Regions from separate parts of the Homo sapiens genome. Here region 1 is linked to region 2. Evidence: fine-mapped expression QTL. A gene starts in region 2. The other region holds a variant in brackets. All regions are shown on one strand. Distances are between the middles of the regions. Region 1 overlaps PPP1R14C (protein phosphatase 1 regulatory inhibitor subunit 14C). Region 2 holds the start of PPP1R14C (protein phosphatase 1 regulatory inhibitor subunit 14C).

Region 1 (15,259 bases), 64 kb after region 2:
TGTTAGAGCAGTGCAGATGGACTAAGTCAGATACGCTCTGGAAATGGATTTTCCAAGTGGGGAATAAACAACGAGGAAGGTAACTCTGTGTCATTTCCACTTTCTTACACCTGGGGTGCTTCACACTTTAATTTTTGTCACACCTCGTGTAATCCCCTTGGTACTCTTTAACATTAATCTTGAAGAACACCTTACATTTTTGGTAGCATTATTGAAACCAGTTGATATATTAATATTTGAGGGCTTTTATAGGATATATATATATACACACACACATACACACACATGTACACAACACACACACACACAACACACACATACACACATACCTGTAGGATGTACAATGAAAAACCAGTTAACTTTCTGAAGTACAGGATTTTAAATAGACTCTATTTGAGCCCTGGAGATTGGCAGTAGTCTCGGCTACCCCTCATGGTGCCGGGGTCCGAATTACTCGCCTCTCTGGGACAGCTCCCTTTTCTCCCTCCCTTGTGATCTTGCATCCAACCCTTCCTTAACCAAGTCTGCAGACTTAGGTTTGTCCTCACCCTAAGGTGAACCAGCCAGCTCCTGTTCTCAGTCTGGGGAGTGCTCCTTTTCCACTGCTGAGCAGAGACTGGAGCAGGAGACACAGTGATGCGTCTCATGGCCCTGCCCCTGGCTCTCTTCCCTTTGGACACACCCCTAGGTGCAGCTGTGGCCTCCTCTGTAACAGGTCTGCAGAAGAGCAAGATTAGAAGCAGCCATATCCCCTACATTTGTAACAGGAGAGGCCCAGACCTCCAGCTGGGGGATTAACATGTTCTCCAGAAATGGCTAGTTACTCCCAAACTTGCTTCTTTCCTCCAAGTCTTCACTGAGAGCCTGAATCCATTCATATCTGCCTCACAAGGAGTGTGGTCCCCTGAGTGTGTGAAAGCTGTCGTCATCCTCTAAGTTTCCATGGAGTTTCCTGGGCTCCAGCTGGCTGTGGATACCAGGGCTTGAATGTGTTGGGTGCCTGGAGCCGCATGTCTGAAGGGCTCTGCTCTCCTCCCTTGCTGCTCCAAAAGTCACGGAAGTCAAAAGGGAGAAATCATTCCCCAGCCATGCTGCATCCTGAAAGGCACATAGCACAAGTTGTAGGGGCCATACATTTTGAGGTCAGATTGTCCAGGTTTGGAACTAAGGAAGCGATCGGCCCTATTGGGCAGGATACTCAGACATTCCATCTGTAAATAGAGATGATGATAATACTCACCTCAGGGAATTGTTTGTTATTTTATTTACAAAATGATTATCGGGGTCATGTGTCAGGCGCTATCCCAGGCACTGCTCTTGGTCCTCCAGTATGGGGAGGCAGACTGAGAAATGTGAATTGGAAGAGTGTGGAAAGTGCAGCGAAAGAGAGGTGCAGGGCATTCTAAGTTTCCAGGGCTGGGAGGTTGACCTCATCACAAGTCTGGCGAAGACATTTTGCTTTAGGAAGTGATGGCTGACACGAGATAACAAGAAGAGTGTCCTACACATGCACCCAGCACGTGCAAAGGCCCTGTGGAGGCCTGGCTGGGGAGTGTCCTGAGGGATCGGAGGAGACCAGCGGAGTTAGAGCTCAGGGAGTTGGGGTGAGGCATTGAATGGAGAGGAGGCCGGGAGCCCAGCAGGGGAAGCCTTCCAGGCAGAGGTAAGACTGTTGGTCCTAAGACTGGTAGGAAGCCACCCGTGAGTTCTAAGCTGGTGAATGACAGATCTGTGTTCTTAAAGTTGCTACTCTGGCTACAGAGTGGAAACTGGGATGGCGGAGGCATGAGGGTGAGTTTATGGAAGCCAGTTAAGAGGCTCCTGCTATAGCTTATGCAAAAGATGATTTAGCTTTCACTAGGGGGGCAGTGGAGGTGGTACAAAGTGCAGGTTCAGGAGACGGTAAGCCATAGAATTGACAGTTATGGTGATGGATTGGATGGTGGCGACAGGGAGAGGAGGGGTCAGGAGTGAAGTATTCCATGAACCGTCACATTGCCTGCATAAACATGCATTACAGGTAAACGATTATGGTAATAATTTACAAAGAAGCATGCCCTTTGCTCTGCTCATTTCACAAGGCAGCTCTGGTTAAATGACTTTTTATTTTGGACTGGCCTCATTCCCTAAGACCAAAGGCAGCTGAGCCTGTGTGCCCCGGGGGCCTGCCCTCTGACCCTGGTGTAGCCTTGCATCAAGCGTGAGCTCCTCTCTCGCCTCTCTGCTGTGTGGTGTGAGGAAGGTAGTGCAAGGAATGTTCTAGCAAGTTTCTCATCCTCATGCAGAACATCCCTGGTGGGTGCCCACCCCACAACAAGGCTTGCCAGCCTTGAGTCTCTGTTAATCTCTGTGTCCCTCCCCTGTACCCCCACTCTGTCACGCAGGCTGGGTCCCACGGAAGAGGCACTGCCTGGCTCCGGCTGGCTTTTCCCAGATCAAGCCCACACCTCCTTGCCTCAGGCTGTCCTGGTGTCTGGCTTTGCTTCTCCCTCTCTCATTGGCACCCTTGCTGTTCTTAGGTTTGTCCCTTTCTCATTGGCACCCTTGCCGTTCTTAGGTTTGGGGCAGGCCCGTGTCTTGTCAGCAGCAACCCTGGCTCCTCTCAACCAGGAGCTGGAGTCCCCATTGGGCAGAAGAAGCTTCGGCCGACTTTGCCGCTCCTTTGCCGCCGGGACAGCCCTGCAGGCTCTTCTCTGGGAGGGTCCCCATGGTGCCCTCCCACACAGCCTGGCCTGGTCTCAGGGCTGAAGCTGAGGACCTGGGTGTGCCTCAGTTGGCTGAAGGTCATTGTATGACTCACACCTGGACCTTTTGCCCAGCCCTCGGCTGTAAGAAGAACCAGCAGAGCCAGTCACAGGAAGGCCTGGCCCTCACCTTCCTGGGTTCAGCCACCACCAACACATTAGTCTTGGTCTTTTGTTTTGTTTTGTTTTAATTTAATCACTTAATTTTTTAAAAGCATTTTAGATTTACAGAAAAATTGAGCCAAAAACACAGAGAATTCTCATCTACCCCTTTCTTTCTCCTCCCTCCAGTCCGGTTGTCCTTTTTCTTAACATCTTGCATTAGTGTTGTATCTTGGTTACAATTGCTGAGACAATCTTGCTACATTATTATTAGCTAAAGCTCATCATTTCCATTCAGACTCACTCTTTGTGTTGTACATCCTGTGGGTTCTGGGGTTGTGTGTCATTTTCCTCTAATTGGGTTTTGGCAAATGTGTGATGATATAGATGCACCCTTATAAGATCACACAGGTTTTCTGGCCTGAAAATTGCCCTGTGCTCTGCCTTAGTCATCTCTCTTTCCTCATTGGCCCCTGGCAATCCCTGATGGTTTTACTATCTCCATATTTTAGTCTTTTCCAGAACGTCCTGTAGTTGGAATCATGCGTATGGCAACTTTCCATTTTGGCTTCATTCACTTATGGATCTGCATTTAAGGTCCTTCGTGTCTTTTCATGCTTGATGGCCCATATCAGCAATGGTCTTTTATACTCCAAGTGCAGTGTGTCTGCTCACCGGCTGGAGGCCTTGCGATGGGATTCACAATTTCCTCTCAGTGTCTTCCAAGCGGCTTTTCCGTATCATCTTCTCAGGCTTCTGTGCACCTGCCCGTACTGGACATATTTGGCCATTGCTGATCTAGGAGCCTTCCCGAGGCAGGAGGTGAAACGGTCTGGATTTCGTGTTCTGTGTTAGGAAATCTAACACTGCAGCAACCCCGAATGCCTCAGTCATGAGCAGTTGATAGTGCAGGGGAACCGTCTTCTCTCCAAGAATTGGCTAGAACGGGCTTCTGCCCACTGCTTTTATTCCATCATCGGGTAATTTGAGTGTTTCCAGTCTAAGAGAATTCTGCTTGGCCCTAAGCCTTTCCACTGCAAATCTGGATGTGGACCATCTTCTATCAGAGACAGCTCAGGCTCAATCCCTAAATTAATGGCAAGCAAGACGTAGACAGGTGTGACTTCTTAGAGACAGGCTGGACTGCTGCTGCTCTGTCCTTGGGTGGCGCCAGCCCTTCCTTTATTCTTTCCCAGTCTTCTTATCCATTGCCTGTAGCCCAGGACCAGTGCCAAGCCTGTAGCTTCCGCATGGTGTTCCTCTCCCTTCCGGGGATCTTCATGTAGGTGCTGCACGGAGAAAGAAGGGCCCTGAGAAGAGAGGCTGCTGTCGGCACAGGAGCCGTGAGGGTGGCGGCCGCCTGGCCACTGTGTCCAGTGCTTTCAAGGTGTTCTCAGTGTCCTCGTTTATGCCACGGCTTAGAAGATTGTCCTTGCCATCTTTAGCAACTGTCTCAGCCGTCACTTATTTTCACTCGTCTTACGAGGACCAACCTGCCGACTTTCTCGTCACGGGGGCATTGTTAACAACCAGCTGTGCGTGTTTAGTGTTCATAAGCAGAGCAAAGTGTGATTGTCTCCAGGAAGCTCTGCATCTGGGTTTTTTTGCTGACATTTTCTTTTCTTTTTTTCTCTTTGAATGCTGTGGTTTTGAACAAATCGGTAATGTGATAAGTCTTCACTTAACGATTTTCAGGCATCAGGAGTACACGATTCCCTGGAAGAGACATTTACATGGAATATTTATTTATTTGAAGAGGAATCGGATGTGCCCAGTCAACTTAGCACCCACTGAGGTCCTGTCACCATTTGTTGAGTTTGCACAACGTGCGTGGGCATGATTGTGCCCGATTTCTATCCAGCCCCGAGAATTAGCTAGCAGTCCCCATTTTACAGGTGTGGGAACTAAGGGTTAGGGGATGCGTTACCCTGCCCCAGCTCTCACGGGTTGTCAGAGGCAGAGATGAAACTGAAACCTGGGTCTGCTTCTCTCCAAACTCCATGCTCTGGGCACAACACCACTTGGCCCCTACCCAAGGGACCGACTCTGTGCTGAGAAGCAGGGCAGCCTGGGGCATACACGGGAAGTCGGAGGCTTCAGTCGCTTTCTTCCCATGCTGTGCTCTGTTCACCAGACTCCCTAGGGTCCTCCCATTGCAGGAGGAAGTGGCCTCTTGAGCCCTTTGAGATCAAGGCTGGGCATAGAACACAACCTCTGCTCCAACTCAGAGTCTTTTTTTTTTTTTTGTTAAACTGTGTCTGGAGCACTTTGATAATCTCTCCAGAGATAGTCATTTTTGCTAAAATGAATTGCTAAATGTAGGGGAGAGATTTGGGGGCACGAACTAAGCCTGCCCTGGGTGCCAGTGATACTGGCAACTTCCCTGGTGGGTGGGAAAGAGAAACCTGCCTGGTGGGTGGGTTCAGGACCTAGAAAAGACCTCCTCAGCCTAGTTCCTTGTTGCTTTGCCGCCGCCCCCAGGCAGTTCAGCCTGGGCTTAGTCAGTGTCTAGCAGCCTCACTGAACTTCTGGGACCAACAGCCCCTGGGTACTTCTCTTACCACCTGGTCTGCATCGTCAGTGGCTCACACACCCATCACACTGGCCTGCTGCTGCTGTTGCATAGGTGTGAGCTTGGTACTTGTGATCTTGCAAAGTGCTAAATGGCTCACCCAACTACAGTACCTGATGGAGCTCTTGAGATACCAGTTTGCTCTCTGAGGTTTGGATCAGCAGTGACCCAGATAAGAGTTCGTTTGTAAGAACAAAATATATATATCATGCTTGGGAGGCTGAGGTGGGCGGATCACTTGATGTCAGGAGTTTGAGACAAGTCTGGCCAACATGGTGATACCCCGTCTCTACTGAAAATACAAAAATTAGCTGGGTGTGGTGGCAGGCACCTGTAATCTCAGCTACTTGGGAGGCTGAGCAGGAGAATCCCTTGAACTTGGGAGGTGGAGATTGCAGTGAGCCGAGATAGCACCACTACACTCCATCCTGGGCGACAGAATGAGCCTCCGTCTCAAAAAAAAAAAAAAATAATGGAAATAAAAAAGAAAAAGAAATATATATATCATGCTACTCCCTAGTTAAAGCCAGTGTCATCTCTTCCCAGCTTATTTCTGTGGCCTCTTAACTGGTCTTTTCGCGTATGCCCTCCTTTCTAACAGGTAAACCATAACCCATCATGCCTCTGAAAGAATGAGAACCCATCAATGGCTTTTCTCTTGCTCACGGTACAAGTCAGAGGCTTTACAGGGGCCTCTGAGTCTCCACATGCTCTGTCCCTTCCCCCACCATGGCCCCAACTCTGATACAGTGACCCCGGGCTCCTGGCAGCTTCTTAGACACAGCCTGGCATTACGTGTTTTCCCTTGATGCTGTGTCTTTAATCAGATACCTTTCTCGCTGAGCCTTACCCTGTCACTGCCTGACTTAAAATTCCAGCCCCCATACTCCCTGTCTCCCCTGCCTAATTTTTCTGCAAAATATTTATCAATCTTTGCCACTGTACGTATTGTACTTATTTGTTTATTGTCTGTCTTCCCCCATTAGAGTTTAATCCCCACGAGAGCAAATATTTTTGTCAATTGTTTATTCCTTAACCCTGGCATCTAGGACAGTGCCTGGCAGGTAGTAGGTGCTCAGTAAATCGGTGCTGCAGGGGTTTGCCTGGTGTTCTGAGATCCTGATGTAGATGTGCCTAGTTCTAGAATAATCTGACGTAACCCGTGATGTGCATCTTCATGTGTGAGCACTGGTATTTGTTTTACAGTGTTGATTTGTGAGACAATGCCACTCCTGTTCACTTGTGTTGGAATGTGTCTTCATGAGCAGGAGGAAAGGGAGGCGTTCTACACGGGGCATGAGGATGGTCCCTGCCGGGAGCTCTCCTCTCTGCCGCAGCTGTCATTTGCATCTGCGTCAGTGCCCCAGAAGTGAACCTTCGTAGGATATAGGTAGGTCAGGACCTGCTCTCCTGGGTGACAAGAAAGGCGATTCCTGTAAATATTATGTAAAACATTCCTTCACTTCACCATGGAGTCAATGGAGTCAGGTTCAGTCAGGCTATTTTGATGTTTTTTTTTGTTTGTTTCTGTTTTTGTTTTTTTTTTGCGACAGAGTCTCGCTCTGTTGTCCGGGCTAGAGTGCAATGGCATGATCTCGGCTCATTGAAACCTCTGCCTCCCGAGTTCCTGCGATTCTCCTGCCTCAGCCTCCTGAGTAGCTGGGATTACAGGCACATGCCACTATCCTCGTCTAATTTTTGTATTTTTAGTAGAGACAGGGTTTCAACACGTTGGTCAGGCTGTTCTTGAGCTCCAGACCTCATGATCTGCCTGCCTCGATCTCCCAAAGTGCTGGGATTACAGGTGTGAGCCACTGTGCCCGGCCTATTTTGATGTTTTTAAAAAGGGCTTTGGGAGGACTTTGCTCTCTGGCTCTAAGCAAGCTTTAGCCATTGGTTTAACTTTAAAAACAAATGTGTATTAGGGAAATACTGGTAATATAGGATCCCACTGGAAAGGCATATGCTTGTTTACCCATGCTACTTCTGTCTAAGGCCCAAGGTGAGGCCATCCTACCCCAGCCACTCTAAATGGCCTGGCCACCTGTGCAGATGGGTGCCCGGTGGGGCTGGGCCCTCGATTCGCATCAGGCAAGCTCATCTCCATGCCTTGCGTGCTCCCCAGCTTGTCAAGCCTCCATCTGTTTCGTTCTTCACTCCGGCATCCCATGTACCTTCCTCAATCTGGATTTGGGGACATGCCCTCTGGCCTTCATGAGCCACAACTGTAGAGGATATAAGAAAATCAAAGTTTATTTCTCTATTTTTCTGGAGCACTCCTTCCCAAAACAGGATAAATACATGAAGATGTAAGACCTAATATGTCTTAAAATGTCTATGGTTTTTTCTCTACTCTTGATAGATAGTCTGAGAATGTCTTAGTTCATTTTCTGTTGCTGTGACAGAAGACTACAGACTGGGTAATGTATACAGAAAATAAATTTATTTCTTTTAGTTCTGGAGGAAGATAATCAATGTCAGCAGGCTTCCCAATGGAAGCCAAGAGCAGGGATTCCAGAATCCCAAGAGGAACCAATTTCCAACCTCAAGGCCTGGGAAGTTCAAGGTCGAGGGGTCA[T/C]ATCTGGTTGGCTTCTGGTGACAGCGTTCATCCCGTGTAATAGCATGGCAGAAAACTGGAAGGGCAGGCAAGCGCTTGAAAAAAGAGATGGGGCAAAGGGGGCTGATCCACTTTATAACAACCAGCGCCTCATGAGAACCAACTCAGTCTCTAGAGAACAGTGTTAATGCACGCATGAGGGTGTGCCCCCATGACCTAATCACCTCTGAAGGTTCCCATTACCTCTCACTCAGTACTGTTGCCCTGGGGACCAAATTCACCCTGAGTTTCGGAGGGGTCAAACCACATCCAAACCATAGCAGGGAGGATGTAGGCCTTGAGGGTGGAAATGGTTTCCTCTCGGGTTTCTGGAATATTTGCTGTTGGCTTCCATGCTCTGTTGCTATAGGGAAACCCACTGACATTAATTCTCTATCTTCCATGTGTGGCCTGGTTTTCTTCTGAAAGCTTCCAGGATCCTCCCTTTATCCCCAGTGTTCTGACATTATATAGTGATGTGTCATAGGGTAGGTTGGGCCCCTTGTTAAGTGGGAACATTTTTTTTTGCAGATTCCAGGGCTGATTTAAATATTTAATGTTATATTATTTAAATACATACCACTTAAAACTGGGTATAAATTCCTTATGCTATGGTTATAAAAATCACATCCAAATTGCAAATTAAACATAAAGTACCAGCTAATGAAACTCAAATGCACAACATCCCTTTGCTGTGATGGCTGGCTTCACTCCTTTTGTCACTGGAATTAGGTACAGATTGCCGTCTCTCAGTGTCCTTTGAGTGATAGCGTTTGGCTTCACTTGGCGTGAATGAGTCATTTATATATTAAATCTACCCTGTGGCTTTTTTCTCATTAGCCACAACAATTAACATAATTCTGCTTGATGCCAATGTGTAAACACAGAGCAGCCCGGCACAGCGTGGTTATAGCACGGCTGTCCAGACTATTCTTAGACTGTGCTTGCTTACAGGAATTATTTTGGATTGTCATTACAATGAAAACATGAGATGTAAATGTTTTCATAGACAGCTCACATAGTCCCAAGGATTCAGTTCTTTTTATACGCTTCCTATGCCAGTTTGCTCCCATAGGCCTATAGAAAGATGAGCTATAAGAAATTGTGGCTATTGTTCAGATGAGTGTTTGAACAGGCCATAATAAGCTGACATTTGCCACTCCCCACCCCTGCCACCCCACGTTTCTCCATCAGCTGCCACAATTTGCACAGGAGTTTAATCCCGTGTTACGTTGCCATCCCTATTTTGAAATGGAGACGGATGAGAGCTGTTAGCCACAGTCATTTCCAGGAAGCTGCCAAGCTATGTCTCCTAGAGCTTGGAGACCATGATCCATCTTCAGGTGAGGTTTTAGCTTGAACATTCCTGCCTGCTCCCTTCACTGCTGTGGGCAGGGGTGAACGTTTATATTTTTTAAAAGCTAATGTGACATCAGACAGGGCTGACAGTGTAAACTTTCTGGCTAGTTAGAAGTGTGTGTATATATCTGTGTGTTTATTTGTGTATGTGTGTATGTGTGCATGTGAGTGTATGAGTGGTGTGGAATGGGTGTATTCATGTGTGTGTATGTTTGTGTATGTGTTTGTGTGTGTGGATGTGAGTGTATGAATGGTGTGGAGTGTGTGTATTCATCTGTGTGTATGTTTGTGTATATATTTGTGTGTGTGTATGCATGTGAGTGGTGTGGAGTGTGTGTATTCATGTTTGTGTATTCATCCATGTGTGTATTCACATGGAGTGTATGTTTGTGTATGTATTTGTGTGTGTGTGTGTGCATGTGAGCGTATGAGTAGTGTGGAGTGTGTGTATTCGTGTGTGTATGTTTGTATATATATTTGTGTGTGCATGCATGTGAGTGAGTAGTGTGGAGTGTTTATATTCATGTGTGTGTATGTTTGTGTATATATTTGTGTGTGTGTGTGTGTGGATGTGAGTGTATGAATGGTGTGGAGTGTATTCATCTGTGTGTATGTGTATATGTTTGTGTATGTGTGTGTGCATGTGTGTGTATGAGTGGTGTGGATTGTGTGTATTCATGTGTGTGTATGTCTGTGTATATATTTGTGTATGTTTGTGTATATATTTGTGTGTGTGTGTGTGTTGTCACTGCGGGCCAGCTGTGTTTCAGGACCCTGCTTTGCTTGCATTTCTGCATCCTGGTACCTGAGCCTGTTCTGAGCTTCATCCGTGGCATGCCCAGCGCCAGGTTCTGCAGCGCTTCCCAGTGCAGTGGCAATGCGGAGTCCCACTGCTGCTTGCAAGTTGGGGCAAGGGGGCTGGTGATGGCCAAGCCTACACTGTGTGTTGGTTTGTGAGGTGTCTTCAGAGCCCCGGTGTGCTCCCGTCATTACTGTCCTTCTCCAAAACCTCTCAGCCTCAGAACCTGGATCTTATCTTTACCTTTTCTTTCCCCCGATCCCTCATCCAGTTCATCTCCAAACTCCATCTGTTTATTCCTCCCTATTATCACTATTTTAAAATCTTATTTTTGCCAGGATCATCTTCAAGCCCTGTTGCTTCGCACCTGATACATGACATTCCCACAGCCTCCTGCCTCCTCCCTGTTATCCCGGGCTCCGCAGTGGGGCCATCTCTTCCTTCTGTCATTCCCCTGTCTTGTTCTGGAGCCATGGAGCCTTCAGTGTGACAGTCTCTGCAGGACAAGGGGAACCGGCAGCCTATGGGCCAATGGGTTTTGTTTATCCTACACAATATTTTAAGAAGTTGACGGACAGCTTTAAAAATTGGAATTTTTTTACATTAAAAAACTCTATTTTCAGTTATTCCTGAAAACGTAGAAAATCCAGCAGCACTGAGCACATATTCCTAGAAGGTGACAGGAGGTGGGAATGGCGTGTTCCCTGCTGCTTTCCCTCAGGCCATGTTTTCTCCAGTTTGCTGCACTCCTCACTCTACTGTATAGCCCCTCAGCCTGCTCCATTTCTGTCACCTGTCTGGCCCCCATCGACGTGCATATTTGCAGCCCAGAGCTGACTGGCTTCCTGGCCAAGGACCTTTCTACACCCACATTTAGAATTCATCTTGTCTCTTTGCCTCCTGCTACCATTTTGCCTCTTGGGAGTGCTCTCCCTTCCCTCTAAACCTGTTCAAATCCTGTCATTCCGCAAGGTCAGTTCACCTCCTCCCTCCTGTGTGCAACTTCCCTGCCTGCCCCTGGCGGAGTTTTCTCTCTCCCTGAATCACTAAAGCGCTTCAGGTTTGTCTGTGGCTTTGGGGCCATTGCATGTCATTGTGTTTGTCAGAGCTGTGTTTAGACAGCCCGTCCCCCAGTGCCAGGGCCTCACTGTGGCTGACACACAGTGCCTTGCACTCTGCGGACTCTGGGTTCTCAACAAATGTACGACAAGAAAGATGTGTAGAGGTGATCCAGGGCCTCGTGCTATGGGTACCAACAGGAGGGCCTCTCACTAATGTGGGGCAGGGAGTAGCTGATAACTTTCCCCAGCAGCTGTGAAGACAGTTGTTTCACTTTTTGTCACCAGAGCCACTGTTTAGGGACACACCTTTAATGTGGGAAAATGCCCAAACACAACTAAGCTCTGGGACGTCATGGTGGGCCATGGGCATGTTCCCTCCTTTGTAAGTGATTTGATCTATCACTAAGGTCATTCAGTGATACTGCTCTAAGATCAGCATACAGAAGATAAAGTTAAATAGGACTTCAATCAAATTTAGAATATTTCCATACTTCTCATTAAGAATATTAAGTACCAATTTACAGGATTCTCTACTTGGTACTAGGTGCTGTCTTTGCTTCCCAGGACTCTCCCTCAAGAGCCTCTGGGTCTCTATGTTCTTCTCACCTGGGTTTTGTTTCAGCTTCACTGACATTCAGAACACCCGGGACGCATGCTGAGCTGGGAGCGGGATGCCTTTCTCTTCCTATGCCTCTGATAAATCAGGGTGGGATTTCTGAGAAGCAGCATAGGTTGGTAAAAAGCGCAGATGCCTAATGGCTGTTAACGATGACTCAATCACTTGAGGTTTTTTCCCCAACCCTTGAGATCTGGGCTTTGTTTGCATCAGCTTTCTGGCTGGTAAAACCAAGCTCAGGGTTTCTCATCACATGCCCTTGGGTAGTAGGAGTGACCTTGAGATGCCTGGCATTTTTTTCTTTACTCCTGTCAAGCCCCTTTGAGAGGGGAAGGGGCTTTGCTTCCCAACTTCTGGGCCAGAGGGCGAGTGTACTCTGGGGTAGCACTGTCCAATAGAGCTTTCTGCTACAATGCAAGTGCTCTCCATCTGTGCTTTCCAGCACAGTAGCCACTTGCCTCGTGTAGCTATTGAGCACTTGAGATGTGGTCATTGCGACTGAGGAACTGAGTTGTATTTCATTTTAATGTATTCAAATGTGCTTACCACATATGCTTACCATATGGGACAGCCCAGATCTCAGGGGTTGGGGAAAATGGGTCAGTGCAATACCTAACAGAGAGCCGTGCACAGTCCTAAGGGGAAGATGCCTAACTGAAGATGCCTACTGTGTAGGGCGAGGCTCTACACTGCTATGCAAGTCAAAGCCTGTTTGGCCTAACTTGGCTGGCGTCAAAACTATTTGAATTATATTTGCAGAAAAACCCATTGCTGTGCTGTTCTGCGGAGGGCATTAGTTACTAATTGTTCTCTCATTTCCTTTAAAAATAGCAGACACCAAGCTCCCTTAGCTGTGATTTAAGGAGCCACAGTGGTATAGCTGGCGAGTGCAGTCACGAACCGCATAACAGCATTTCAGTCAACAATGGACTGCATATATGACAGTGGTCCCATAAGATTATAATACCCTGTTTTTAACGTACCGTTTCTATGTTTAGATGCGCAAATATTTCCCACTGTGTTACCGTTGCCTACATTATTCCGTATGGTAATATGCTGTCCGGGTTTACAGCCTAGGAGCAATATAGGCTGTGCTATACAGCCTGGGTGTGTGGTAGGCTACGCCATCTAGGTTTGTGTAAGTTCACTCTGTGATGTTTGCCCAACGATGCTCCTAGCCATCGAAAGGTCATCCTTCAGCTTTATTATCATCAAAGCGTTTCAACTTCCTGTTTCTACATCATCTGCTTCTATTAATAGCTACATGATTGTTAAGTACAAATATGAAAATTATGTCGAGGAGTACAAAATCTTTCTTCCATTAGGCAGAACCGCACAGATGAGATCTAAAACGTTCACATTGATAAATACTGCTTTTGAAGTGGATTTTTCCCCTTAAGAGCCAAGCAAAGGATCAAAACGGAAATTCTCCACAGAAACAAGAATAAATCACTAGAGAGGTTGTTTCTGGAATTTTCCTGCCCATTGAGGGCCTGTTCTTGGAGCTAATGTCAGCGAGGATAGTGTATCATATTCCTTGACTTCCTCAGTATACTGGGGTCCTCACTTTTGTGTTGTAACACACACACACACACACACACACACACACACACAAGAGGTTGAGTACTATTACTGAATAAATGCACTTTAGTAGGAAGGAAACATTCAGAAAGTCAGCCTCTTCTGGGAAGCCAAGACAAACAGCTCTTGGAGCCAAGACACAGAGAGGCCACACCCAGGGAATGCCCGGGTGTCCCCAGTGTCCCCATGTACACCTTTCTCTCTAGCTCCTGCAGATGCTTCTCAGCCATCCCTGTGGCTGGAAGGAGTTGGGCTGCCATGACTCCTGATGAAATGCAAAATTGCAGGACTCTCTTAAATGCTCTTTTATTTTGACATTTTAAAATGCTATTCTGAGAGGTATAGAGAAGACTTAGGTAACAGAAGAGATGAGAAATAGCCAAGATCTCCTTTGAAGTTCAGATTCCAAATCAGTGGGGTCTTTCACCAAATCCATCTGGCCCTTCTTCCCTCTTTTTGGGCTAGAGGTCTTTGGTGGCAGGAATATTAAACTAGACCCACATTGGCTGCAACAATGAAAGAGGTTGATTCACTCACTGATAGGCAGGCTTCAGAGGTGGTTTGACACAGGGATGTGGTGACTTTATCTAGAACCCTGTTTTCTTATTCTCTTCAGCTCTGCCTAACGTGGAGTCAGCCTCATCCAAAACAGCCTTTCTTCAGGGTTGTATGGTAGCCACCGGTAATTTCCGGTGCCACACTTCCTCGGTTCAGAGGGAGTGAAGGGGACGTTCTTGTAAAAACAGCGCCTTTTCCCAGAGCCCCCTTAGTTCTTAGTTGGACCACGTGTCTTCTCTTAAATCAGTAACTGGGGCTAAAGCCATACTGATGCCCCAAATCCCATGGTGGAATCAGGTTTTCCATAGACCCAGAGCTGTGAAGGAAGATGTGGACCCCCAAATAAAGATTGGGGTAATCACCCAGCAAAGGGTGGCTGTCAGATAGGAAACTGTCATCTCCCGGCTCTATCATCTGCCAGTCTCCCCTTATATACTTACAGATGCAGCTTAATGCTAGAAAGTAGAAAATTCTCATTTTTTGAAAGATTACTTTTATGGCTTTGTGACTCTTAATTCTCCTTTGCTCCCCCTCCTCCTTCTCTTCTTTTCCCCTACTCTCCTTTTCCTTCCTTCCTTCATTTCCCTTCTTCATCTGTCCCCATCCCTCCTTCCCTTTTCCTGTCTTTTCCCTTCTTCTCCTCTTTACCCCTTCATCCTGTTTCCCCTTTTCTCTCTTTCCTTCCCTCCTCTCCCCCTAGCCTCTCCTTCCCCCTGCTTATCTGTCAGCCCTTCTCAATTGATGATCTAGTTGTTTGTTCAACTTAACCTAACTGGTGGGGTACAGTCAGGTTTCTTACTAAATTAAATGCCTTCATATCCTCCCACTGCCCCCCAGGAAGAAGAAATGCCAGAGGTAGAAATTGACATTGATGATCTTCTTGATGCAGACAGTGATGAAGAGAGAGCTTCAAAATTACAGGTAAGCAGTTTCCAAAATTGAGAACCTTCTAATCATGGACACTTGAGAGTCTACTTGGGTCTTCAGTGCTTGGCATCAACTGATTCCGCCCTGTGGTGGTGTTGGCACCAGGACCTGGGCCATTTGCAGAGAGGAAAGCAATGGGCTGCTAAGTGTTCACTCTCTTAAACTGCCTCTCTGAGGATAAAGCAGCCCTTGACTATAGTCCATTTTCAAAGCGCCTTATGGGTATAACTTTCTCCAGCCCCATTTTCTTGGGAGAAACAGCTGATTCTGCTTCCAAAGATCCACTTGCCAGGGAAGGGAAGTGATGCCCCACAGTTGTATGAGAAAGAGAGGGACTGAGCTAG
Region 2 (15,259 bases):
AAAATCACCACCACCCCCAGATTGGATCTATATTGGGGAGAGAGGAAACAGATCTATATTTTTGTATATTTGTATTGTAGACTTAAGAAATGTGTGCAGCTACAAGTGAAGATGGTCTCACTTATTCACTAATTTGGGGGCACCTGCTATGTGCTAAACATCATTCTTCTTCCTAAAAATATAACCCAATTAGCTGCATTCTGGTCTTCAGGAGTTTGCAATCTAATGGGAGGGACAGATGACAGCCTCCTTCTGTCCACTAGGTACTACTATTTGTCTCACACCGTTTTAGGAAGTGGAGATACTGAGGTGAACACTGACATCCTGTCCTCATGAAATTTGCCTTCTGTCGGGAGAGTAAGACAATGAACAAAGGCATATATAGTTTCCAAGCTGTCATAAGAGCGAGAAAGAGAAATAAAGAGGGCAGGAACATAGAGGGTGCAGGGAGAAGATCTGTGGAGGGAACATTTGAGCAGAGACCAGATCCCACACAGGTTTGGTGGGTGATATGATAGAGCCAGGGGTGGTGGCCAATAAGAAGCATGAGGGGGACACCTCCCTAAAACTAGGGACGTCAGGGAGAGCTTTGTCAGGGAGGTAAGGAGCACGTTCAGCCTGGGCAGATGGGTGTCTTAGTCCCTTTGTGCTGCTATAAGAAAATACCACAAACTGGGTGATTTGTGAAGAACAGACATTTATTTCCTTATGGTTCTGGAGGTTGGGAAGTCCAATGTCAAGGTGCTGGCATTTTCTGTCTTGTGAGGGCCTTCTCGCTGTGTCCTCATGAGGCAGAAAGGATGAAAGGGCAAAAGGGGAGAGGCAGCTCCTTTGTGCCTCTTTAACAAGGGCACCAATCCACTTATGAGGACTCTGTCCTCATGGCTTAGTCAACTCCTAAAGGCCTCTCTCTTAGTACGATCACATTGGTGATTAGGTTTCTACAGATGAATTTTGGGAGATACATTCAGATCATAGCAATGGTAATTTCCACTTGAGTTGCTTTAAATTTGAGGTGACTGCAGTCATCTAGGTGTTGGTGCCCCTGAGTAAGCAGTTGGACATAGGTGTTTACCTCCCATTTATTGGGGCTTGTTGATAGGAGCAATAATGAATTTGCTGCATAGAGAGTTGGAGCAGGACCCCCATGGAGATGGTTTCTGCTGTTCTCTTCCCATTCCTGAAGTCACGGTGTGTCCTTGGCCATAATTCCTTTGGGAAATTGCTGGAACCATGGTGAGCCAGTCCTCCCTTCTGTGTTTTTGGTCCCTCTGCAGATAACAGCAGGCATTGTCCTAGGTGCTTTATTCCAGTAACTCACTCAGCCCTCCCACACACACGCACACACAAGCACCACTGATCATGCTGCAGATGGAGAAGTGGAGGTACAGAGAGATTCAGTAACTTGCCAAGGTCACCCCGTACTTCAGTGGCAGAGAGTGAATTTGATCCAGGCAGCTGAGATCTGGGTTTGTGCTGGTGACCACAATACACTTGTTCTCAAGCTGGAGGCTCTCCCAGTTGCTGTCTTCTCATCTTCACCCTCTGGGCACTCTGGAGGGCATTTCCTAAGGGAGGCTGGAGGCCCAGCCAAGGTGCCTCTTAATGTCAAGAATATGCTTTCTCTTTGGTTCTTCTGTGGCACCTCCAGGAGGTCACACACGTGCCCTTGGTCAGCCATTTGGGGTCAAAGTTCTTCACCAGAACTCTGAAAAACTTAATAATGGTACATTGAGAATGCCTGGGGTGCTGGGCATGGAGGCTCACACCTGTAATTCCAGCACTTGGGAGGCCGAGGTAGGAGAATTGCTTGAGTCCAGAAGTTCCAGACCAGCCTGGGCATTATAGGGAGACCCTATCTCTACTAAAAGCAAAAAGCAAAAACTACAAAACAAAAAATTTAGCCAGGCATTGTGGCCTGCATCTTCTAGCACTTTGGGAGGCTGGGAGGTGGAGGATCACTTTAGCCTGGGAGTTAGAGGCTGCAGTGGGCTATGATCAAGCCACTGTACTCCAGATTAGGTGACAAAGCAAGACCCTGTCTCAAAAAAAAAAAAAATTAAAAAGAAAAAAACCCAGAATGTCAAACGTATCAATAACCACCCTGGAGTGTGCCATTAAGATGAAGGAGAACCAGGATTCATGTTCATAGGTGCACTGATGGCTGCCAGCAGTGGTTTGAACAGTGGGCTTTTTGCAAGAATGAGTTGCAATCCTTTAGTGGGTTAGGACTAACTTTAGTATGCTGGGACCAGCATTCTTTAAACATAAAGACACAGAGTAGATTGAGTAGGAAGTGTCAGAGTGTATCACATGAAATATGGGTGATATGGTTTGGCTTTGTGCCCCACCCAAATCTCATCTTGAATTGTAATCCTTGGGTGTTGAGGGAGGAACCTGGTGGGAGGTGATTGGTACGTGGGGGTGGTTCACCCCATGCTGTTCTTGTGATAGTGATTGAGTTCTCACAAGATCTGATGGTTTTATAAGTGTTTGGCAAGTTCCTCCTTCTCTCATTCTCTCTCCTGCTGCCTTGTGAAGAAGGTGCCTGCTTCCCCTTCTGCCACGATTGTAAGTTTCCTGAGGCCTCCCCAGTTATGCGGAACTGTGAGTCAGTTAAACCCATTTCCTTTACAAATTACCCAGTCTCAGGTAGTATCTTTACAGCAGTGTGAGAACAGACTAATACAATGGGTAAGTGTATGTGTGTGGATATATATATGGGTCATGACATAAAATGTATTTATTGTGGTTTGTAGTTAAAAAAATGTTTGAAAAACATTGGGCTTGAGTACTATTTACTGTGCTGGCCACCCAGCACAGTAACATTACTGTACTGTAATTACAGTACAGTAATTACTGTAATGTTTTGTTTTCTCATGAATTGCTGTAGCTATGTACTGATATACTTTAAATATAAAGATAATTGTGGAGTGCATTGGCACTGTATGTGGTATGCTGCAGATCTAAAGCTCTGGCCGTAGATCTGCTTGAGGTAATGATTTGAGGGGTCTGTGGCAGGTAGGTGGGAGTCAAAGCTGCAGGAAGTTGGAGCTCTAGCAAAAGCACCTGGGGAGGCTGTGAATGAGTAAGGAAAGAGCCCAGGGCAGAACTTGGGAACCACCTACCTTGAGGGCAGGGGTGTAGGAAAAAGAGCCCACAAAAAACACTCACTGTAATGCAATAGATAAAGAGGTAGGAGGAAAATCAGGAGGGTGTTGGTACCTGGAGCCAAGACAGGAGAGAGTTTGAATAGTGAGGAAAGGTTCAAGATTGTTAAATGTGGCAGAAGGTCAAGTTATATAAGCGCTGAAACGCGCACCTGTGCTTGAGCAACACAGAGCTGGCTGGTGACCTCAGTGAGGGCGCAGGGCTCCACGATGAGATGGGAAGACCTAGAGACGTGGGGGAAGGGACACTTCCTCCAGAATGTTTGGTGGTAAAAGCGAGGAGCACAAGAGGCCATTGGCTAGAAGGGAGGATAATTTGCTCCTCTAGAAACAAATTTGAACCTAGTTTTTCAGAAGGAGACAATATACCCCACATGTTAGGCTTACTGAAATGGGCAGAGGTATGTAATTTTTGTTTAAAGGGATGGACAAAGCTATGGTTTTTTTTTCACCCATTTTTCATCATGTCTGAACAGTGAGGTGAGAACTTACGTTAGTTTTTGAGACAAAATTTTAGACTTGCAACAATGATTGCTGTTGCTTTTTTTTTTTTTAATGCAAGCAACGGCCAAATTATTTTGGAATTACGATCCTAAATTGATCCCAGCCTGATACAATCAAAGGTCCAGAATTAGAAGGAGAAAAAGTGGAGAGTGAAACAGTAGCCAAAAGAAAAACTTCACTGATATACTGTCAACAGCTGTGCTGTTATCACTCTGTAAAGAACAATGAAATATTGGAATGAAAATGGAAAATGCTGTGGGTAACCAATGGAATCCTGAAAGACAGATTAAGTTTCTTCAACATTTATAATGAAAACCAGACTGAAAATAATTTTTAATTTGTCTTTTTGCTTCATCAAATCTTGGAGAGGATTCGGATATAGGCATCTTATCATTTGACATTTATTACTCAAGATAAGAAGATTATGTTCAGGTTTGTGGGTCTCCAGGATGCAATTATAACATTGTCAAAGTAGATTACCAGGTGTTGCATAATTATTGTGCCGTTTAAGGAAATTTGCATCTGAGTATAAACATGTGTATTTAATTATTTTCCTGGGGGGTGACAAAAGTTCCAGGACTCCTGATTAAGTCATCCATCCTGTCTAACAACCTTTGGGCATAAAGATCATATTCAGAGATAAAGGACCTATATAATTCCTAAACAAACAAACAAAAAACTTTGTCCAATTTGGGAAGCAAGTAAAACATAACCAAGCTAAGAAAACACAAAACTACGAAGAAAAAGATTCAAATGAAACATCCTTAGGCTGCCCTCTCATAGCAGGGAGTAATTGCCTTCAGGTAAAAGTTGATTCCGGACCATTCAATTCACTGAAAGCTATTCACTGTCTTAGATTAACCAGCACCTAAAAACACTTGACTAAATAGGCTAGAAATAAAAATGTTTTCCTTGAATAAATGTATATATTATTGGTTTTGTAGATGAGAAATACCACTGGTTTTGCCGAATTTAAATAGTCAGCTATGTAAAGGGTCTCTGGACTAGGAAAAATTCCTTTATTCCTAAATATTTTGGCTTCAATATTTGAAATCTGCAAAAGCAGTATTTCTATCTGTCAAAATGAGGCCATTAAGTTTTGATTATTCAAACCTGGAATGAAGTGTGTGTGTCTGGGGGTAGAGGAGATGATATGGACTTCACTTTGAATATAAATTACGTACTGGGTGGAGCAAATGGATTTAAAGAAAGAGGAACCCTGGTTCAATTCTATTTGCCAGTCAAGGTGACTCACTTGAACATCTGAAGGCCAGCGTACCTGTGGAAAGAGACTATTTCCTGGATTTTCTTCTGTGAGTCAAGATGCTTAAAACCCATGTCTTTTAGTATCTGTCATTTTGGAGTTGTAAGGGAAAATTGAGTTTTAAGCATAAAGGAAAAAGCATCTTATGCTGTGAGAAAAAAATTGACATCAGAATTTCTCAGAAAGAACTTAGTGAATTTTTTAAAATTATTTGACGTTATCCTTGAATGACTGATTTCGTTGTCCAAAGACTTAAAGAAAGGAGTTGGAATTCCCCAGACTTTGCCAAACTGTGGGATGGCACAATAGGTATTGTCAGGTCCCAGGGCCAGAATGAGGTAGAGATTTTATGTAGTTTCTCCTTTGTTAATAACATTTAAGCTGTTTTCGTTCTGATTTGCATTCTCCTGATTAGTGCAGTTGGTCAAAGCTGGTGCTAGCGGACTTGGCCAGATGTCTGGAGCCATATAAGCTGATTCTGTGTGGGAGATGCTGGGGCTGGTTCCTGCCCTCCTTTCCCTTCCTCCTTGCAGACAGAGTTCCATTTTGAGGTGGTCACTCTCTTGGCTGTGTGTTCGGGGTTTACAGTGACCCACCCTAAAGGCAGAGGGGCAGAGGTGGTGCAGAGACTGGTCATCGGTCTCTAGGGGCAATCAAGGTAATTCATCTCCCTTGTCCCTGATAGGCTCGGTGCAAAACCCATCTTCTAAAGGGCAGCTGGCCTCTTCTAGCGGGGCAGAGATCGTTCAGCTTTGACCCCTTTGTAATTATGGCAGGAGTCCAGGGCCCCACACCAGCCACCCTATTTCAATCTCCGCAGATCCTTCCCCTTCACATTGTGAGGCTTGACATGTCCCTGTGAAGAGCCGCAGGCATGGAACACTTTGGGAAAATCCCTATTCAGGCTCTCACTGGAAAACCCCAGACTGAGGGTACAAAGGCAATGGATCCTAAGCCTGGGTAGAGCAGAGCTGGGCGCTGGTGGATCGCAGAGCCTGAAGCGCCAGGAGAAACCTGCTGGTTACTTTTATTTTGTCTTTGTAGTGTCAGTCTAGAACCCCACACAGGATCTTCTCCATCATAGGAAAGTGTTCCGAGGAATTTGACTTGGTATCTATTTTATCTCTGAGAAACTTCTTTGAGTAGCTGCCAGTAACCTTTAGGGCTCTTTTATTTAAAAACAACAACAACAACAAACAAACAAAAAAAGTTCATGGCCAGGCGCGGTGGCTCACACCTGTAATCCCAGCACTTTGGGAGGCCCAGGCGGGCGGATCATGAGGTCAGGAGTTCGAGACCAGAATGACCAACATGGTGAAACCCTGTCTCTACTAAAAATACAAAAATTAGCTTGGTGTGGTGGCGAAAGCCTGTAATCCCAGCTCTTCAGGAGGGTGAGGCAGGAGAATCGCTTGAACCCCGAAGTCAGAGGTTGCAGTGAGCCGAGATCTCGCCACTGCTCCCCAGCCTGGGCAACAGAGAGACTCCGTCTCAAAAAACAAAACAAAACAAAACCGTTACTAAAAGCCGCTTACTTGTATTCATTCGGACGTCTCTGTGGTTTCTATCAGTTCCTGAACAGGAATGTATTGTTGTGTACAAGAAGAATATGTTAGTGTCTCCCTAATTTTACACATGCAGTTTTCTGTTTACAACTTCCCTCCCCACCTTATTGTCCTAACCCTTCTGAGAAGCTCCTTCATGTGTAACTACTAGGCTGTGATGTTTTGCAGTAGAGTCAGGCAGTGCTGTTGCCCTCCTGGGTGGAAGGGGCTGTTTGGAATGGGATGGAGAGAAAGCTGGCAGTGCACGGGACGCAACACTAGAAATGTGAAACCAGGACCCTGTCGCCGACCCTCTTAGAGAAATGTTTACTGTCTGGATGCCCCCAGACGCCTTGCCTGAGCGCCGTCACGCTTTCTGCCCTTTGGATACGAAGATATCCGAATGCTGTGCCCATGATTAAGCAGACGCTTAGTAAGGAAAGAAAACATTGGTCTGGAAATAATTTCTCAAGCGCCGTGACTGCCTTATTGCACAAACATCGCCTCTTCGATGTTTCTCACAATCCAGAGAGGAAGTGGCATCCATCGTGGCATGAATAGGAATGTGTGTTTGGAGCCGTGGGGCGGGGCTGGAGGGGAGGGGACGCTACCCAGCCAACAGAGGAGACGGTGGGGCTAGGAAAACCTCCTGGGGGAGCCTGCGGCGCGGTCCTTTCCTGTGTCCCCTTCGCTGCGGGTCCTGCCCGGGGCCGCGCCAGGTGGAGGCCCCGAGAGGCGGCGCGTTTCCTGCGCTCCGGGATTGCGGGAGAAGCGTGAGTCCCTGTCTCCGAGACTAGAGGCCACGGACACCCGCGCAGGAGCATCCCCTGGCACCCCGCCCCACGCCCGTCCTTCCGGAGTCTACACATCGGCGACCTCCCGTGTCTAGGCGCACACATTTCCCGCCCCGCGGAGACTCCCACGCCCCGGGCCCTCTCTGCCGCAGGCGCCAGATCCCGCCTCTGGGGGCTGGACCGAGAGGGTCCTCGGCGGCTTCTTTAAGGCTGCGGTCCCCGCCCCGTCGTCCTCCCCGCCCTCCTCCCTCTCGCCGCGGCTCCTCCCGCCCTCCCAGAGCAGCCGGGCGGCTGGGCGCGCGCGGCGCAGAGCAGGTGCCGGGGAGCCCTTCGCATGCGGCTGCCGGGCCGGAGGTGGTAGCGGCGCCGGGCGCGCTCCGCCCGCCCCTCCTCCGGGCCGCACTGAGGCTCGGGCGCGCGGGGACATGTCGGTGGCGACGGGCAGCAGCGAGACGGCCGGCGGGGCCAGCGGCGGCGGCGCACGGGTTTTCTTCCAAAGCCCCCGGGGTGGCGCCGGTGGCAGCCCCGGCTCCAGCAGCGGCTCAGGCTCCTCCCGGGAGGACTCGGCGCCCGTGGCCACGGCGGCCGCTGCAGGGCAGGTTCAGCAGCAACAGCAGCGGCGACACCAGCAGGGAAAAGTGACAGTGAAATACGATCGTAAGGAGCTTCGGAAGCGGCTGGTGCTGGAGGAATGGATCGTGGAGCAGCTGGGTCAGCTCTACGGCTGCGAGGTACCTGGGCGCGGGGCTGGGAGGGTCGGGGACCTCTCTAGCTCCTCTGTGCCCGCGCAGTAATTTTCCCGGGCTCCAGCTCCGGGGCGCGCATGTCCCTGACTCCCGGGGACCAAGTGCCAGGAGCGAGGCGCGGCGCCTTCTCTCCCCCGCGGTGCCCTCTGGCGTCGGGCTCAGCGGTTGGGACGCCCCTGTCTGGGTTCGGCTGCCGGTGCCCGGGGATCTGCGGGCCCCCTTGGTGGCCGTGGGGAGGGTTGGGTCCCGCGGAGCACAGTGCTTTTCTCCGAGCTCCGGGCGCCTCTGGGCTCCAGCTGCAGCTGCGCAAAGCGGGGCTCGGAGGGGCTCACTCCAGCTGCGCCTCAGCAGCGGTTGGGGATACAGCAGCCAAAGAGAGCAGCGCTCACTGCTGGGATCCGGGCAGCCCTGATTTTTGTGGAGAACGAGCAGGGAAGGAAGGAAGCTGCCTCGTGGAAAGGAGAGGTTCTGGGGATCTCAGAGGCCCCCTTGGTTCTTGAAATTCCCCGTGAAAATCCTGAGATGGAACGCTTTCCGCTTTCCAGCCAGCCCCGACGGTGTCTCCATAATTCCGCCCTGCATTATCAGAGCTGCACACGTTGTGCTTTGTTGAAGCCGTAGTTTTTCCTCTCTAAGCTCAGTTACTCCCATTGATGGGCGCAGAATGAGCATCTGGGGCAACCTCGACGGGTGCCTCGGTGGAAGGGCGGGAGCCCTGCGGGGGGCCTGCGGGATCCCGGGATCTGTCAGCTTCAGGCTCCCAGCTCCCCTCTCCTCCACGACATCGTGACTTCCCAAGGTCCAGGGACTAAGGTCATACACAAGTCTCAGGGACGTGTATACATTTGATTTAGGGAGAAATATGTAGAATAAACTGCAGCAAAACGACTGAAGCCAAAATGATCTCTCATGAGCATCTTGAATAACAGTTATTAATTCTAAATGAAGTGACCTCCTCTTAAGGGAGTGGAGTTTGGAAAGGGTGGAAGCATGAAGGGGTTAATAATTAAGAATGTGGCTTCTAAGCTAAAGCTAGGTTTGTGTTCATTCAACTGTTGTGCTCTTCAACAGAGATGACAACCAGATGAACTCACAGGCTTTACCACTAATGTCGGGTGTTCTGTATTTGACACATTTCATGGCCTGTTGTGAAGACACGTTTTCTTAAACACCCTCATTGCACAAGAAAACAGCATACTCGTTACTGACTACTGATAAATGATTATAATATAATGAAGCTTGACTGTATGACTAATGGGGTTGTAAAAATGTGTTGTTTCTCCAGTCCAGCTCTTACAAAAAGCTAATTTAATTGCATAAATAAAAACTGGCAAACATAAGAAGTATTCATGAGATTTTTATAGGAAGTTGGCAAAACTCTGTAAAGAAACATTATTTGATGTAGATGGGATTACTGTTGGATGAGTGGATGTGCTCAGTCCTGCCTCTGTAGAATCCAGTTAATTTTCATTTATTTCATACTGTTTTTTTTTTCTCCATTTGGGATTTGGAAAAGATTCGAATTAATAGAAAAAGCATTGTTGAAATTAACAGTGCACCAGCATGGTTCTTTTTGTGGGAGACTAATTAGGCTTAGATTGGGAAGCTAGAAAGAGCTCTACCCACTGAGTAGCCTGATAAACAATATATTTAAAAAATACTTCAGAATAATTAGAAAAAATGGAGGTTTGATTGTTTCCTGTGTGGAACATGTAGGTTAGGTATATATTTTAAAGGGTAAACATGAGCTTGAATCTTTTCCTTGTATTGTACTTTTCTTCTTGGGTTTTAAATCTTCAACCCGTAGCAAACAGCTAGACATTTGAAAGGGAGGTTTTTGTGGTGAAATAATTCAAGATGCTCTATATGCTGCCTGCATGTCATTAACGTGGCAAGTATTTTTCTTCAAGTTGTTTGTTCAGTCATTGTAGGCTGAAGGAAGAGAAATAATTAGGTTGTTGGCAATTTGTAATCACTATGCTGGTGGTGTACCTCCATTTAATAATAAAGAAACATGGGCAAATAAGTAGCCAAATAAAGGCTTGTCTCTTTGCATCTATTTCTCTGCTGATAGTGCTCTATTTTTAGCATTGGGTTCTCTTGTTGAGTAACCTTTCTTTGTTGATAGCTTCAAGTATTTCAGCCTCTGGTTTGTGAATCAAGAAGGACGCACCCTAGCTTACAGCTCCGAACTTCATGCATACGAAGATTAGGAAATGTCCTTTTTATACTTAAAAGTGGTAATTCTTTCAAATGTTTAGCCCATGAAAGTGACACAGCCAATTTCCCAGCCTTCAAACCTCAAACCTGCCAAAGGCTTGAGTTATCTGCTGAGTTGGGGTAGAATATGAACACATCTTTAATTTCAGAAGAACTTGACCCAAGCAGGTTAGGAATCAGATGACTTGACCTTTTCAGAATAGAAAATAATCTTTTGGAGCAGTGTAAAGTGATGTATTTAGAAAGAGGAAGAGGAAAGAAGAAATACACAGAACCACTTTCTGTCTGTGTTTTTTTCTGGAAGTGTGCAGTGACTAATCAGTTTTGTATGAGAATAATGTCATAGGGGAATTTATTACCTACCTACTAGGTGACTAGGTGCTCTTCTAGGTACTTTGGGCTAATTCATTTAGTCTTCATAACAACCCTATAAAGAAGATGTTCTTTTTATCCTTGTTTAAATGTAAATAAAGAAGTGAAGACTCAGAGAGGATTAAAAGGCTGCTTCAAGCTCATGTAGCTGGTGGGTGGGTTGGGGTTGAGGATGAACCCAGTCTGGAATCTGAGTCCACTGTATACCCATGAGGCCTGTCTGTACCGTGCAAGAGAGCAAATGTAGGTCTACAAGACATCTGTCTAAATGTTTAAAACTTATGAGTTAAACTAACAACATTTGTATAAAATTTCTTCTGTCCACTGATCTTGACAGCTACATCTTCATAATGACCTTGAAGTCTAGGTTTGCATTTTGAATTCAAAATGTTACTTCCCAGAGTCATGAACTGAAATGCAGTTAGGAGACTGCCCTGGCCTGGGTTTCTTCCCTTTTGCTTCCCATCCTTGGTACAGTCCCACCTGGTAAAGGACACTGTGTCCACTCGCACGCCCAGTCTTGGTATGCACCTGCCACTCCTTGACCATGATGCCTCTGCACACACCAGTGGTGATGTCCCCCTAGGCCAGAACAGATCTGGGAGGAGCTTGTTCATGCCCTAGAAGCTACTTGGGATTTGAGAAGGGAATTCTGGGGACCCGGATCACAGACTAAAACCAAGTGGAGGGGCACTGGTTCTGGATAGATGTGTCCACTTTGTCCTAGGAAGTCTTCAGGAAGACAGGTTATGGCAGGAGTGGGGCCCGGAGATGTGGTCCCCTCTTACCCAGTCTAAGGGCAGCACTGTAAAATACCACGTCAAATAGCCTTTTGAATACGTAGATAAGTGCTTTTATTGGATTCCAAAATGATTTGTTATGTGCTTATAGTTCTTTTCCATCTCATCTTCTCTTGGGAAGGCTTATACAGGTACATTTTCAGCTAGGAATTTGATTATAATGTAACCATTAGACTAAATCTACATCTACATCCACATTTAAGGATTTCTGTTTAAAGACCTTTTTTTTTTTTTTTTAATCTCTTCCAAACCCTGGTGGGTTTTTTTTGTTTTGTTTTGTTTTTGTTTTTTTGAGATGAAGTCTTTCTCTGTGGCCTAGGCTAGAGTGCAGTGGCGCAATCTCAGCTCACTGCAACCTCCGCCTCCTGGGTTCAAACGATTCTCCTGCTTCTGCCTCCTGAGTAGCTGGGGCTGCAGATGCGTGCCACCATGCCCGGCTAATTTTTGTATTTTTAGTAGAGACAGGGTTTCACTATGTTGGCCAGGCTGGTCTCGAACTCCTGATCTCATGATCCGACTGCCTCAGCCTCCCAAAGTGCTGGGATTACAGGCATGAGCCACCGCGCCCAGCCAACCCTGGTGGTTTTTAAGAGCATTTGAAATCTGGCATAATATCTACTTTAACAAGTACTGCAAGATGACTTACTGGATAAGTCATATGAATATTTCCAAGTTTGCCCAGCATCAAGATAACATCTGTACTTCCAGTTTTGCAATTCAATTTGCTTTGGAAATAAAAACATGTTGCTAAGCTCAGATGATTGCAATGCCCGTAGCATCCTAGCCATAAACAGGCTTGTGTACCTTGGGTACTTGCTGTGTTGTTCTGACTGTCACCTTAGTAGGTCTTTCCCTTTGCTTCCAGTGTCTGCTTTTTATAAAATGGTTCCTGACTTATTATACCTTTCAGTCTTCCCTGACTCCCCATTACCCCCATTTTATAAAAACTGTCTTCTGAGAGATGGTGGTGACACAGAAAGAAATACCCTGTTGATTGCTGCCTGATACATCTGGATATATAGATTGCTGCCTGACACATGGATACAGAGAAACAGAGAGTCATAGGGTACCACTTAATCTTACTGTATGCTAAGGAAAAATATTATAAAAGTAATCTGAAACATAACGTCATTAGTGTTTAAATACCATGTTTTATTCCTCACTTTCTGAAAAATGATTTTATTTTTCTAAATTTGTTTCATAATGCATTTATGAGTTGTGACCTGCAATTTTAAAAGTACTGCTTCTGAAAGGGAGAAGCCTAAACATGTGTAATAGAGTTAGCAGACACTGGCCGAGTACTTAGCACGTACTAGGCAAGGTTCATGTAATCTTGGCAACAACTCTGAGACCCCCATTTTGTGGAGGTGGAATCAGGCACAGGGAAGTTAAGAAGTTGCCCCAGGACTCTCAGCTGGGATGTGACAGAACAAGGCTGTGGCCAGGGAGTCAGGCACACCTTAACAAATGGCCTGTCCTGCCTCCTGAGACAGGGCAGAGCCTGGCACCTATGTGAACCCCATGGTTTGCCTGTTCCCAGATGCTGCTGTTATACCTTGTAAATGGACTGTGAGTGCATGTGGAGGACACCACTGTTAGCGGGTTAGTTCTTGCACCTGGATGAGGCCTCTCCTTTTACATGCAGATCCTGGATTTCCACAGACTTTTCCAGGTACAGTATCACATCAGCCGGCTTTGCTACTTTATTAGCGCTCAAGCTGGAAGGTAGAAACTGCTACTTAGAACTCGTCTTGTGGATTGTTTGGTAAATCACCATTTGTTCAGGTATTTGAGGACAGGCTTTTAAACAACAACAAAACCCCCTGAACTCCATAAACTCAACCTGTCAACTACTAAGGAATAAATTACACATGCAAAAAGTCAGTGGATAAAGCCAGGCATGGTGGCTCTAGCCTGTAATCCCAGCACTGACGGATCGCTTGAGGCCAGGAGTTGGAGACCAGCCTGAGGAATATGATGAAACTCCGTCTCTACAAAAAATACAAAAATTAGCCAAAGATGGTGGCATGCGCTGGTGGTCCCTGCTTCTCAGGAGGCTGAGGTGGGAGGATCACCTGAGCCCGGGGAGGTTAAGGCTGCAGTGAACCAAGATCACACCACTGTACTCCAGCCTGGGCAACAGCCTGCCTCAAATAAAAAGAAAAAAAAAAGTCAGTAGATAAAAGAATTCTAAATTGCCAAAGGAAGGAAAGAAAACTGCTTAACACATTCCCTTTGGAACAGTGGTTAGGGAAATGCGGGGTGGAAGCAGTGGTTACAATGTGTGCTTTGAAGTGCGATGAACCTGAATTCACATGTGGCCCTGTCATTCAGTGGGTATATGTGATTAGGCAATTTCCTTCACCCCTCTGAGCCTCACTTTCTCCATACATATGTGTGTGTGTGTGTGTGTGTGTGTATGTGTGTGTATATTTCAGACAGTCTGACTCCTGTTGCCCAGGCTAGCTAGAGTGCAGTGGGGCTATCACGGCTCATTGCATCGTTGACCACCCAGGCTCAAGTGATCCTCCCACCTAATTTTTTTTTTTCTTTTTTTTTTTTTTTTTTTTTTTGTGGAGACAAGGTTTCACTGTGTTGGCCAGGCTGGTCTCGAATTCCTGGGCTTAAGTGATCCGTCAGCCTCAGCCTTCCAAAGTGTTGGGATTACAGGTGTGAGCCACTGCGCCCGGCTACTTTCTCTGTATGTTGAAGGAAATCATCCTGGTGCCTTTGCAGGGCTGTCAGGAGGACTGATTGGTGAGACACCAAGCATAGTACTTAGGACATAGCATGTCAGTGTTGTTATTGGAGCCACAAGCTGCCACTAACTGTTGGTTATTCTCTATGATGGAGACAGAGGAAAGGGGTGAAGAAAACAAGGTATTCACATCTATTTGGTGCAATAATTTGGAGAAGAGTATAGGGTTACTTTAGGGTCAGGGGTGTTGGTGTATGTTTGAACTTGAACATGGGCAAATATTCTCTAAACTGTTCCTCCTGTTTCTAGAGCCTTCCTCATTCTCTATGTTTTGGTGGATTTTTACATATGTGCAGGGAAGTTAGACTGTAACAACTTGAAGGCAAGGAACTGTCTTAATTTTCATCATTTAAAAGTTCATAGCGGGACACAATTCTTCAACATTTAAGCATTTGCTTGAATGAATGAAAAAGGATCAATGTTCAGCAAATGTTTAAAAGTCATTGATGTTTCTGTATCTGAACTAATTGGTGATATTCCTTTATCATAGACATGGCGAGGGCAAAAGTCAATCTGTGTTTTTGTTACTGTAGTCATATCACATTCTTGCATCCTTACAGCTTTATGTCAGTGCTGTTGGAAAATACACCTTTCTTCATTGACTTACTTGCTCCAAACAGGAACTGAAAGGTGGTAATGGTAGCCAATTGACTTTGAAGTTTAGGTTGACAGAATTCTTTTGCAAATGTGATCTTCCCTGAGTCCCACCCACTGTCTTTTCCTTTGCTCCTAACGTGCCCCTGCTACACTAGTTCTGCCTGCTGTTCTCATCTCTGTGGGTACATGTTTGCTTTTGCTGTCTTCTGTTTGTCCTTTTCCTCTCAGCCTAAAACAACCTGGCAGCCCCTGGTCTCCCTCGCCTAGCCCACAGCTCTCTGTCAAGAAGTCTCTTTCTAGATGGAGGGAAGAATCAAATCTGAATTTTATTTTCCATGTGGCACATGCTTTGGCCACATGGTTTACTTTGTAGTGCATGCTCTTGCTCTTGTTTCCTGCACTGGGCTAGTTCAAGCCTTCACCTGTCTTTTCAAGGCACCTCTTCTGTTCTCTGCCCTCCCAGTCTCCTCCTCTGCAAGCTAGACCAGCC

Evidence for each region. PIP is the estimated chance that this variant, and not a neighbour inherited with it, causes the effect.
Region 1: its variant is fine-mapped to the expression of PPP1R14C in visceral fat (GTEx, PIP 0.95).

Annotation. Positions count from the first base shown.
Region 1 is chr6:150,199,919-150,215,177 of GRCh38, forward strand. PPP1R14C (protein phosphatase 1 regulatory inhibitor subunit 14C) reads left to right here. Exons shown (of 4, transcript NM_030949.3): 2 at 14,826-14,909. Among named protein-coding and RNA genes, the nearest start is that of PPP1R14C, 65 kb to the left of the region's middle. The variant T/C (reference allele first, on the strand shown) is at 7,997.
Region 2 is chr6:150,135,492-150,150,750 of GRCh38, forward strand. It overlaps PPP1R14C (protein phosphatase 1 regulatory inhibitor subunit 14C), which reads left to right and starts at 7,553. Exons shown (of 4, transcript NM_030949.3): 1 at 7,553-8,007. The coding sequence starts at 7,702.